Homo sapiens: one gene and its partner. Each later gene encodes a partner of the first gene's protein in a complex. Each region holds a gene or a part of one and is shown in the gene's direction. Other genes may lie near its edges. The genes, in order: LMAN1 and MCFD2.

The links.
Region 2: the proteins of LMAN1 (region 1) and MCFD2 are in contact, whole or in part, in a cryo-EM structure (PDB 8JP5), measured with the Homo sapiens proteins. Residues at the interface, in NP_005561.1 of Homo sapiens: His43 (codon at 4,502), Arg44 (codon at 4,505), Arg45 (codon at 4,508), Phe46 (codon at 4,511), Tyr48 (codon at 4,517), Lys49 (codon at 4,520), Ser51 (codon at 4,526), Phe52 (codon at 4,529), Lys53 (codon at 4,532), Pro55 (codon at 4,538), His56 (codon at 4,541), Gln59 (codon at 4,550), Ser60 (codon at 4,553), Asp61 (codon at 4,556), Val64 (codon at 4,565), Pro65 (codon at 4,568), Phe66 (codon at 4,571), Trp67 (codon at 4,574), Lys96, Phe265, Glu273, Lys279, Glu280, Ile281, Glu285, Lys286, Tyr289, Glu292, Phe293, Phe296; in NP_001164977.1 of Homo sapiens: Val59, Ile60, Asn61, Lys62, Gln70, Glu71, Leu74, His75, Phe77, Lys78, Tyr82, Asp83, Asn86, Asp89, Gly90, Leu91, Glu92, Thr95, Thr98, His99, Val100, Leu111, Glu114, Leu117, Ile118, Ile121, Asp122, Leu125, Asp129, Lys130.

The regions. Positions count from the first base shown.
Region 1 is NC_000018.10:59,356,212-59,363,619, reverse strand, and holds the start of LMAN1 (protein ERGIC-53 precursor), read left to right. Parts: upstream 1-4,354; 5' UTR 4,355-4,375; coding exon 4,376-4,589; intron 4,590-7,408. UniProt on the Homo sapiens protein: Mannose-specific lectin. May recognize sugar residues of glycoproteins, glycolipids, or glycosylphosphatidyl inositol anchors and may be involved in the sorting or recycling of proteins, lipids, or both.
Region 2 is NC_000002.12:46,901,081-46,905,806, reverse strand, and holds the end of MCFD2 (multiple coagulation factor deficiency protein 2 isoform A precursor), read left to right. Parts: intron 1-212; coding exon 213-344; 3' UTR 345-3,933; downstream 3,934-4,726. UniProt on the Homo sapiens protein: The MCFD2-LMAN1 complex forms a specific cargo receptor for the ER-to-Golgi transport of selected proteins. Plays a role in the secretion of coagulation factors.

The DNA.
Region 1 (7,408 bases):
CTAATAGATAATCTATAAGGCACGATCATGTTCTTGATTAACTGTGCAGGACACACTGTTGGTTATATTTGGATCTTTCATTTCTGCCTTCCTCCTTCTGAACTGATCCCCAGTTGAGTTCATACGTTCACTCCCCATCACACACACATAACCCTTGTGACTCAGGGGAAGCTAACTCCATCCCCAGTTCCCAGGGTAGATCAGGATTTGTCTAACTAGTGATTCTCAGAGTGTGGTCCCCAGATAAGCAGCATTAGTATCACCTGGAGCTTGTTAGCAATACAAATTATTAGACCCTATTCTCAACCTACTAAAACTAGAAATGTGGGTCTCAGAAATTTGTGTTTTAACCAACTCCAGAAGTGATTCTGAATGATATTAGAGTTTGAGAACCACTGTTCTCAATCAAGGCTGGTAATCTTGTACTCTTTACCAGCAACTGATTCAGTGCTTGGTCTTCCCCTGGCTACGGTTAATGTTCCAAAGATGGACATGTAACCTAGATTGACCTAATCAGAATGAAAGGCAGAAATTTTATCCAAGGATGAAAGAGATTTTCTGTCTCTCCCATTGAACCTAAAGAAGATCTGACATCTTAGAACCTTGAGAGAAGCTAACCTGAGGACAAAGTCAATGTGAGGTAGAACCAGAACTTCTCAAAGATAGAGAGAACCTAGTCGTAACTGCCTGGGCCCAGTCCTAATCTAATTTACAGTTCAGTGAGATAACAGATTTCTTTATTGTTTAAGCCACTTTGAATTGGGGCTTTTTTTGCCCTTGCAGCCTAAAGCATTCAACTTATTAAAACACATATAATAATTTTCTAACTGTTCAAAGTTAAATCTGAATTCCCCAAGCAAGTTGTATTCCTACTGCCTTGCCTCTAGTATAGCGGTTTTAACACTTAATTGTCTGATGTTGTGAATAAGAACAAACACATGTGAATGAATGATCATGCACTGAAGGAGCAGGCAGACAATATCGTTTTCATTACTCTTATCAAATACAATTTATTCAAAGTCATTAGGAGGCTCCAAAAATAGTTAATCCACTAATGCAAACAATGAATTGGCATGGTAACCTTAGTTTTAACACTATTTTTGCTGTAACTAAGTGAAATTCTTTCCAGCTAGCTTAAGCAAAACGGAGGTCTATTTTAAGACTACTGGAGTGGCTCACAGACCATGGATTTTACCCCAACTCCAGCCAACAATTATGTGTGCCATTGATGAGGGGAGTGTATCTGGGTCAAAGAAAATTGAAATTGATCACCAATTATGAAAAAACAACCCATTAATCCACAGGGCTCCCTGTGAGTAGGAAGACCAGAAAGAAAAGATATCTCCCAATCTGCTTTTTGGCTTCTTATTCACTCCAGAGCAAAACACCATTCTGTGCTATGTGCTAGAAGACATCCATGGGTTTTATAAATGGGACAGGCCTGTCAATCTTCTGGCATTTGGGATACTTTTTGCTAGCACAGAAGAGGCTGGCAATGAGTCATGGATATTGCCAGAAGATAGTTATAAGGAATCAGGCAGCAAACCAAGCCCTGGTACTGCCACTCCATCTCTCCAGCTCTGTGCAGGGCCCAATGGTGTGTTGAGGGACCCTCATAATTTTTATTCCCCTCCCAATTCAAAAATCTGAGCTTAATTTTTGGAAATTGCCTCAGGCACTAGAGGGTAGTAGGAAATCCCTCCTCATTGTGTTGTACAAAATTTGCAATACGGTATTGCCCTGAAGGTAAAACATCACTTAATTGTAAGGAATTTCCCCTACATGGATTACTTCAAAAACACAGATTTTAAAATTCACTGGCCCAGAGTTCCTGGGGCCTGGAGTAAAAGCATTCTGATCCTTGAAACTTCAGTTTGCCAGGCCCAGTTTCTCAATTTCGCTATTTGTAAAATGGTCTTATCTAACTCAAACCGAAAAGCTCTCAGTTCTGAAGGAAAAATGCTATAAAATTTAAAGTTTAACAACTTAGACAAAACAACAAGCAAGATTCCCAGACATGACACACAAAAAACCCTTACGGGGGAAAATAGTAAATTGAGCTATATTAAAATTATAAGTATCTATTCACTAAAAGACAACATTAAGAGAGTGAAAAGTCATCCCACGAAGTGGGTGCAAATATTCGCTATATGTATATATCCAAGCAGAGACAGGTATTCAGAATAAAGAGTTTCTACAAGCTAACAAAAAAAGTCAGACAGCTGAAGCCCTCACATACTGCTGATGGCAGTGTAAATTAGCACAACCACTCTGAAAATTTGGCAGGATCTACTATGACCCAGCAACTCTACTCCTAGTTACATACCCAGTAGAAATTTTTTTTTATTATACTTTAAGTTCTAGGGTACATGTGCACAACGTGCAGGTTTGTTACATATGTATACATGTGCCATGTTGGTGTGCTGCACCCATTAACTCTAGAAATGTGTGTTTTTTAAAAAAAAAATCTGGATGCTGGTTGCATGGGAGGTATTCATTTTGGGAAAAATTCATTGAGTTACATTCTTAAGGCTGGCATAATTTTCTCTATATAATATGCTTCAATAAAACAGTTTTTTTTTTAAGAAACAGCTTCACAGAACATAAAGATTTACATTTATGGTTCAGCAAAATTACAAATATTTACTTGTATTATGCTTGAAATTCAGGTCCCTCATGAGTTCAAATCATGCGTAATGAATTGAAAATACTTAATATACATAATGTTTAACATAAAACGGTTCTTAAGATTGAAGGCTTCAATGATAGAATGGCTGGAATTGAAACCTACCTCTGCCACTTACTGTGTGACATTGGGCAAATTATTTAATCTATGCTTCTGTTTCCTCATCTGTAAATGGAAATATTAATGGCATCTACCTTAGAGGGCTGCTGTCAGCATTCAATAAGTTAACATATGTTGAAGGCTTAGTGCAGTTACACACAGAAAGCACTCAGTAAGTGTTTGCCATTTTTATAACATTAATGTTTGTTTAACAAATATTTATGGAATCTTCACTCTGTGCAAGGCATAGAGCTGGTTGCCAGAGCAATGAGAGAACCAAAGAAAATAAAATGATTAAATCCTATGGGTTGAAAACCATGGAGAGTCCAGGGCAATGACGCACATACACCATACAGTGGATAAATGTTTGTTACTGCTGCTGCTGAGATAGCAGTAAGTATGGTACTTTCATTTAAATTACATCTCGAGACTAGCAGGCGGAAAGCCTTAAATCCATATTCAACTTGAAGGTTTTATTTGAGCACTAGAAAGAGATTTAACAGTAATGGCCCATGAATCCGAAGATGGGATTCAACTTCCAAAACTGGGAAGTTAATGAAAAATAAGTTTAAGTAATGCGGGTATTGAGTCCCTAGGGCTAGTGTGGCGTTCATGTAGCCCACACGAACAGAGCTAATAAAAAGCCATGTGTAAAAACAATATAAATCATACTGCTGTTTCTTGGACTTGAAAAACTCATCATGACACATTTTTGAAAAAACAAAACTTTGGATTACCATGAATATTTTGACGATATTTTTTCCTAAGCAAGGGAAAGAGGAGTCCCCTTTAAAATATAGAACGTATTCATTGAGTGGAAGACCGATCCTATATCAAATGTCCAGGTTCTACAGACGCCTGGGTCCATAGCACATTATCCCTCTCACCAAAACCAAACCAAACCAAAGTCAGTTTCATTTGAATGCACTCTTGCCATGGTTTCAAAATTTGGAAAGCTCTTGGAATTAAATTTTGAGATGTAAAGGCTGGCTGACAAATTCACAGAAACCCTCTTTCCGACACCAACTTATAAATCCTAAGGCATCCTACAACCCCGTGGGTGCTGGTTTCTAGTTTGCAACGCTCTAACATAGCTTGGTAGAGCTCAGTGGGCTGGGACCATAAGCATTCGGGATTGTGCCACTGAAAAACTGATGTCACATCAAAAGGAACACCTTTCTTCTAATATACTAAAAAGGTTTTGTACAGGCTGGGTCCAGAGGTCTTAGGGCTAGCCAATTCCTGCTCCCAGGTATTCTAAGAAGCCGGAGAAAGCTCCCTGCAGGTAAGGACCCATCGGCGCTTCCCGCACTCTGCCGCGCGGGAAGCGAAGGTTGGAGTCCTTTCCCCACCCCCGGAGGGTGGGCGGGGCCGAAGGACCGCACCGCCCCAGACCCGCCCCCTGCGCGTGGCCCCGCCCACAGCTGCTCCTGGCCGTGCGGCCGCGCGGAAAGCGGAGGCCGGGGGCGGGGCTCACCCCTTGCCCTTGGGGGTCCCCCGGGCTCTGCCAATCAGCGAGCGCCCTGTTGGCCATCCGCAGCCATCCGCGCCCCTCCCTCTCCCGCCCTCCTCCGCGTTCCAGAATCCAAGATGGCGGGATCCAGGCAAAGGGGTCTCCGGGCCAGAGTTCGGCCGCTGTTCTGCGCCTTGCTGCTGTCACTCGGTCGCTTCGTCCGGGGCGACGGCGTGGGAGGAGACCCCGCGGTCGCGTTGCCACATCGCCGTTTCGAGTACAAATACAGCTTCAAGGGGCCGCACCTGGTGCAGAGCGACGGGACCGTGCCCTTCTGGGCCCACGCGGGGAGTAAGCCGGAGCAGAGGGCTGGGGGCCGGGTTCCTCTCCCCCTTCTGCTGCCTCTTCGCCTTTCATCCGCGGCTACCCTGGTGTGCTGAGGTTCCCGTTCCAGCAGCTGCACACCATATGCGCTGTGGAGGGGACCCTCCTGGCAGCCCCTCCGCCGGGTCCCTCCTGGTTCGCACGGTTCCCTCCGCTTGTCCCCGAGTCTTTCCCTCACCCATTCTGTTCTCTCTCACCCGCCTGCTGTCTTCCCTTCTTTGATCTCGTCGGTACTTTCCGTTGGATCTAGAGGTGTTTGGTTACCTCCTACACTTCCTAGCACTCAAACTTGCTTCTAGGTATCATGTTTCACAACGCCACGTCTCTAGGAGAAATGTGCCCTACCCCCAGCCATCCCAACCTGAGACATGTTCTAGAAGCCCCCTTACTTCCTTTCCCGCTTCCACCCCCCACCCCCGATCCCCGATTTCTTTGCTCCGGTGTTAGCAATGGTTAATGCTTCGCTTGAACCCCATGCCCACTGACGGCTCCTGAGATGGCATATAGTAGTATTAGAGTAATTTTTTAAGTCTTTGTATGTCAGAAGACATTCTTATACTGTTGGAACTACACATTTTCCTCTCAGTGACTTGGTGTGGTCTTTGATCTTTTCTCTCGTAGTAACACATTATGTAACTTTTTAGGAGAAGGGATATATTTTTAGGGATTGATTGTTTCTGAACCTGAGACTAAGAATAGCATTACATTTTTAGCCCTTTAAAAAAATTGGAAGCATTGAAATAATCTTGGGTTCATATTTTATTCACTCTCTGTGTTTGGCACTTTTGTAGATAAGAGAGCCTTGCTAGAGCATTTACTTACGTGAAAGAAAACATATCTGCACTTTTTAGTGCTGATGTGTCACTGCTGACTAAGGAGTCAATCGTAGCACTTGGCATGACATAAGCTCTGTTCAGTGACCATCAGATATACCCGTTGAACAAGTGGCAAATGCCTTTATATGAGATGAGGAGCTCTGGCAGTTTGAATTCTATCTTTGTGTGTGATTAATCTTTTTTTTTTTTTTTTTTTTTACTATAAGGTTTAGGGTACATGTGCACAACGTGCAGGTTGGTTAGTATGTATACATTTGCCATGTTGGTGTGCTGCACCCATTAACTAGTCATTTAACATTAGGTATATCTCCTAATGCTATCCCTCCCACCTCCCCCATAAGTAATCTTTTATATAAGGTTTTTATACATCACTTTAGATTATCCAGTTCTTGAAACAAAATGTTTCATTTCTAGAAAGTAATTACTGAATAGGAAGCACCCTTTTAGGAAGCGCTATTTCTCTCAAATTAATGTGTAATTGAAAGGTATAGATTTTAATTTGACTTAATGACCAAGTCATTAAGTAGTTGAAGTAGAGTGCAGTTATTTCGTTACTCAGCAGTCATTTATTATGTGCCCATGCAGCAAGGGTATATTACTGGGCATTTGTTATCAAGGTATCTCTATTCTTGATACACAAAGGTGATGCAAATGATATCAAACACAAGTTTTTGGAGTTTTTGTTTCTATTTGTGGGATGATGAATTATTCAGTAGTGATGGATTTGTTCACACATTTTCACTTCTACACCTCTCCACTGCCTGCCTGTTCTTCTATCCCTTTTCTCTTTTTCTCACACTCACATACACTACATTAGCCAATTAGGAATGTTAATCAACTAGTCAAATCAGCTACCTTGACTTCCTTTACAGAGCCGGAACCAACTAATCTATTCTGCTGCAGAAATGTCAAGATAATGTACCAGTAAATTAAAGCCGTGTGGCTAGAATGAATTTGAAACAAAGTATTAGTATTTTAGCCATGATTTATCTGGCTACTGGCTCTGGGAATCTCTGCTATAGACATCCCTTGCTTTCATTGTCACTGTAGTTTTTGCATAAGCCTCACTGTAACTACATTGATCATTTTTTTCTTTTCGTTTTGCTCTGCAATTCATTACTTTAAAAAAAAAGTAGAGAAATTTAAGATCTAGTTTAAACACAGCCCTTTACCTTCAACCCCAAATTAAGACCAAATCTATGGTGTTTCTCTTTCTTAACTCTAATGTTCCTTTAGTACACTTAAGGCCATAAGGGCAAAAAATGATAATTTGTAACCCTTTATAGCTCTCAGAGTTCTTTCACTTTCATTCTCTGATTTGATCCTTAGTAGACAAGGCGGGTGTTATCTGTTTTATAGATGAAAAACTGATGTTCAGAAAGGTTAAGGTTTTTGAAAAAGGATACATAAGTAGTAAGTGTCAGTGAAGTTGAACTCAAATCTAGGTCTTCTGATTCTGTGTTCAGTCTCTTTCCATGATGCCCACACCCCATCCTTTGAATGTTTGTAAGTAACAGTGAACAGTGACTGATCCTACTAAAGTATCTCAGCTTTCCTTTTTGTCAACTTTTTTCTACCTGTAAAGTGAGATTACAGTTACAGTTGTATTTCCCAGCATGGGTTTCAGAATTAGTTAATATCTGAGAGCTAGAATTGTTCAAATTTTAAGTCTGATAGACCTTTAGTAATTACCTAGTCTAATAATAGGAGAAATAGCTAACATTTATTGAAACATTTAAAGCTACTTGTGTAGGCACTTAAATACCTATGAGGCTGTTCAAGAAATGGAGTAACTTGCCTACAGATCAAACAGCTAGTAAGTAGTAGAGCTGGGGCTTGAACCTAGCCTGGAGATGTAAACCACCGTTTTAGGGATCACTATTTTCTCTGAGAATCTTCTGAAGAATTGCTTTTTGAAGTTCAGTTGACCCTCTCCATGGAAGAATGTAT
Region 2 (4,726 bases), on another chromosome or scaffold:
CTATATATCTAGATTCCTAGAAGTAGCCCCATACTCCATTGAAAGTTTTTGGACACATATGAGCGTGGATATTTTGTTGTTTTGTTTTTCCTTTTTTTTTTTTTTTTTTTTAATAAACAGTGCCATGAAAGAACATGGATATTTTGGACGTTAGTTAAGCACTTCTTCCGGTAAAATGCGCAACTCATCATTGTCTAATTTGTATTTTGTAGGAAGGGAGTGAACAGGCACCACTAATGAGTGAAGATGAACTGATTAACATAATAGATGGTGTTTTGAGAGATGATGACAAGAACAATGATGGATACATTGACTATGCTGAATTTGCAAAATCACTGCAGTAGATGTTATTTGGCCATCTCCTGGTTATATACAAATGTGACCCGTGATAATGTGATTGAACACTTTAGTAATGCAAAATAACTCATTTCCAACTACTGCTGCAGCATTTTGGTAAAAACCTGTAGCGATTCGTTACACTGGGGTGAGAAGAGATAAGAGAAATGAAAGAGAAGAGAAATGGGACATCTAATAGTCCCTAAGTGCTATTAAATACCTTATTGGACAAGGGCTTGCTTCAAGCATCTGTATTAGTCTGTATTAATGCTGCTGATAAAGACGTACCCGAGACTGGGAAGAAAAAGAGGTTTACTTGGACTTACAGTTCCACATGGCTGGGGAGGCCTCAGAATCATGGCGGGAGGTGAAAGGCACTTCTTACATGGCAGCAAGAGAAAATGAGGAAGAAGCAAAAGTGGAAACCCCTGATAAGCCATCAGATCTTGTGAAACTTATTCACTATCACAAGAATAGCATGGGAAAGACTGGCCCCCATGATTCAATTACCTCCCCTTGGGTCTCTCCCACAACACGTGGGAATTCTGGTAGATACAATTTCAAGTTGAGATTTGGGTGGGGACATAGCCAAACCATATCATTCTACCCCTGGCCCCTCCAAATCTCATGTCCTCACTATTCAAAACCAATCATGCCTTCCTAACAGTCCCCCAAAGTCTTAACTCTTTTCAGCATTAACGCAAAAATCCACAGTCCAAAGTCTCATCTGAGACAAGGCAAGTCCCTTCCACCTATGAGCCTGTAAAATCAAAAGCAAGCTAGTTACTTCCTAGATACCAACAGGGGTACAGGTATTGATTAAAGACGGCTGTTCCAAATGGGAGAAATTGGCCAAAATAAAGGGGTTACAGGGCCCATGCAAGTCCGAAATCCAGCAGGGCTGTCAAATTTTAAAGTTCCAGAATAATCTCCTTTGACTCCAGGTCTCACATCCAGGTCATACTGATGCAAGAAGTGGGTTCCCATGGTCTTGGGCAGCTCTGCCCCTGTGGCTTTGTAGGGTACAGCCTCCCTCCTGGCTGCTTTCACGGCTGTTGTTCAGTGCCTGCGGCTTTTCCAGGTGCACGGTGCAAGCTGTTGGTGGATCTACCATTCTGGGGTCTGGAGGACGGTGGCCCTCTTCTCACAGCTCCACTAGGCAGTGCCCCAGTAGGGACTCTGTGTGGGGGCTCCCACACCACATTTCCCTTCTGCACTGCCCTAGCAGAGGTTCTCTCCCCTGCCGCTGAGAGGGCCTCTCCCCTGCAGCAAACGTTTGCCTGGGCATTGAGGCATTTCCATACATCTTCTGAAAACTAGGCGGAGGTTTCCAAATCTCAATTCTTGACTTCTGTGCACCTGCAGGCTTAACAGCACATAGAAGCTGCCAAGGCTTGGGGCTTCCACTCTGAAGCCACAGCCCGAGCTGTATGTTGGCCCCTTTCAGCCATGGCTGGAGTGGCTGGGACACAAGACACCAAGTCCCTAGGCTGCACACACATGTCAGGGGCTGCCCTGACATGGCCTGGAGACATTTTCCCCATGGTGTTGGGGATTAACATTAGGCTCCTTGCTACTTATGCAAATTTCTGCAGCTGGCTTGAATTTCTCCCCAGAAAATGGGTTTTTCTTTTCTATTGCATAGTCAGGCTGCAAATTTCCAAACTTTTATGCTTTGCTTCCCTTATTTATAAGGGAATGCCTTTAAAAGCACCCAAGTCACCTGTTGAACACTTTGCTGCTTAGAAATTTCTTCCGCTAGTTAACCTAAATCATCTCTCTCAAGTTCAAAGTTCCACAAATCCCTATGGAAGGGGCAAAATGCTGCCAGTCTCTTTGCTAAAACATAACAAGAGTCACCTTTACTCCAGTTCCCAACAAGTTCCTCATCTTCATCTGAGGCCACCTCAGCCTGGACTTTGTTGTCCATATTGCTATCAGCATTTGGGGCAAAGCCATTCAACAAGTCTGTAGGAAGTTCCAAACTTTCCCACATTTTCCTGTTTTCTTCTGAGCCCTCCAAACTGTTCCAGCCTCTGCCTGTTACCCAGTTCCAAAGTCACTTCCACATTTTGGGTATTTCTTCAGCAGGTCCCAATCTACTGGTACCAATTTACTGTATTAGTCCGTTTTCACGCTGCTGATAAAGACATACCCGAGACTGGGAAGAAAAAGTGGTTTAATTGGACTTAAAGTTCCACATGGCTGGGGAGGCCTCAGAATCATGGTGGGAGGCAAAAGACACTTCTTACATTGTGGCAAGAAAAAATGAGGAAGAAGCAAAAGCAGAAACCCCTGATAAACTGATCAGATCTCATGAGACTTATTCACTGTCACGAGAATAGCACGGGAAAGACTGGCCCCCATGATTCAATTACCTCCCCCTGGGTCTGTCCCACAACACGTGGGAATTCTGGGAGATACAATTCAAGTTGAGATTTGTGGGGGGACACAACCAAACCATATCAGCATCCTTTCAAGAATATTAGATAATTGGAGCTGAGTACTCAGGAACTTGACTGTAGTAGAATACTGCTAGTTTCTTAATTTTAATTCACATCACCTGAAAAGTAAAACAACAGGCTTTGCCAAGTGGATGCTTTTCAGTAACAGTGAAGTGGAGTGAATACCAAATGTTTGCCCTGGTGGTTCCTATCTCTTCAGGCAAACATGGTCAGTATTCTGTAAAGTTCCCCTGGCCTAAATGATTACTTGCTCTGGGCAAGTGGATATTTATTAGGCTATTTCAAAGCCACAGCATAAGAATGTCAGCCTAGCCACAGAGTCTGAGATTCTGAGTTCAGCCTAGCCACAGAGTCTAAGATTCTGTATCCTCTGACATTTTGGAAATGATACACTACTGGCTTAAGTGATGACTCTTTCAGATTTTCAGTATTTTATACAACTACTGCCACATCCTTATACTTTATTGCTTTTCTGTCTTCTTCAACCTGGGAGAGACCCTGAATTTGAGTGTGTTCTCTAATCAATAGTGGTTTAGCTTTCTTTTCTATTTCACTCGTTTCTAGGGTTTTTTATTTGCAGTTTAGGAACTATTAGGAATGTCAGGACTTTATCAGCAGGGGTAAAACTACCACCTGGCCTAGCCTAAGTAGGAAGTGAAAAGATAATTCACCAAACAATGATTAATCAGATAGAAGTTCTAGTCAAGAGGGATATTGTTGAAGTTACCTCTTTTAGCCTAGATACATGGATTCTTTTCAAATCAGGAAAGATTAGAAAAGGAACCCAAAAAACCCTTTAACAGTGTGAATCTTTATAGTATTTGAAAATGAGAAGAAGCAGCAGATTGTAATTTGGTTTATTGGATGTGATGGACGTTCTGTAATAGAAAACCTGAAACGATGATTGAATGGGAAAAAGAGACTACAAAATTTGTCGTAGGATGTATACAGACTTATTTTCTTTATTACAGTATTATAAGAAAACATATGTATTTGTAAAAATGGTTTCCTGTGTCAAGTATTTGTGCAGTCAGAGCTGACTTGTAAACTATTCTTGTAATAGCTCATTATTTTGAAAGATTTATATATGATGAATTCTGGATATATGACCAATAAAACTGATGAAGCAAAACCTCGAGCAGTTGATTTTGTTCACATCAGCTTCTCCTGCCACATGCAGGGTGTGTTTACTACAAATGTTCACATGTGCCTGCTCTTATCATAGTTCCTGTGACTATCTTCGGCTATACCCTGCTCCTTTTGCAGGAGTCAATTCTCAGAATTCAAAGTTACTTTCCCCTTTTAGGCATTTTTTCTTCTGAATGAAATCACTTTTGGATCTTCATTCTCTGGTCAAATTTAAATTATGACACCATTCTCTAGGAGACTGCATAGCGTTTTCCCCTGGTCTGGCGACTGTTTTTTAATTTGATAGCATTATTGAAAACATACCAGACCCAAGCAAAAAAAGTCTCCCCTGGCATTTTGAGAAGACACACTTTTTTCTGCCTTTTAAAAGGAAATTATCATTGCCTCCCTCCGTACCCTCTGAGACCCTCGGACCTTGCACTGACCCTTCTTCATCCAGAACTACCCCTCTGGATGGATCTAGTGAATGGGCTCCCAGTTGTTGGCAGCTGGGAGAGGGAGAGAAGCAGATCCTCAGATAGTGGAATCACCCCATCAAACAGACAAGGCTGGAACACCTTCCTTCTCCACAGCTGGCTGCTGTTAGTAACTATTCCATGCTGGCCTTTGTGGTCCTTGCCTGCCCTTCCTTATAAAAAATTCTCCTGATGGGAGAGTTTCCTGGGACATCAGGGACACAGCATGATGGGCCCTTCCCTGCATATGCCCTCTATCTCCCACACATGAGGCCTTGGCTTCTTGCAGCCTGCCTCAAGAATTCTTCAGAATGTATAAGG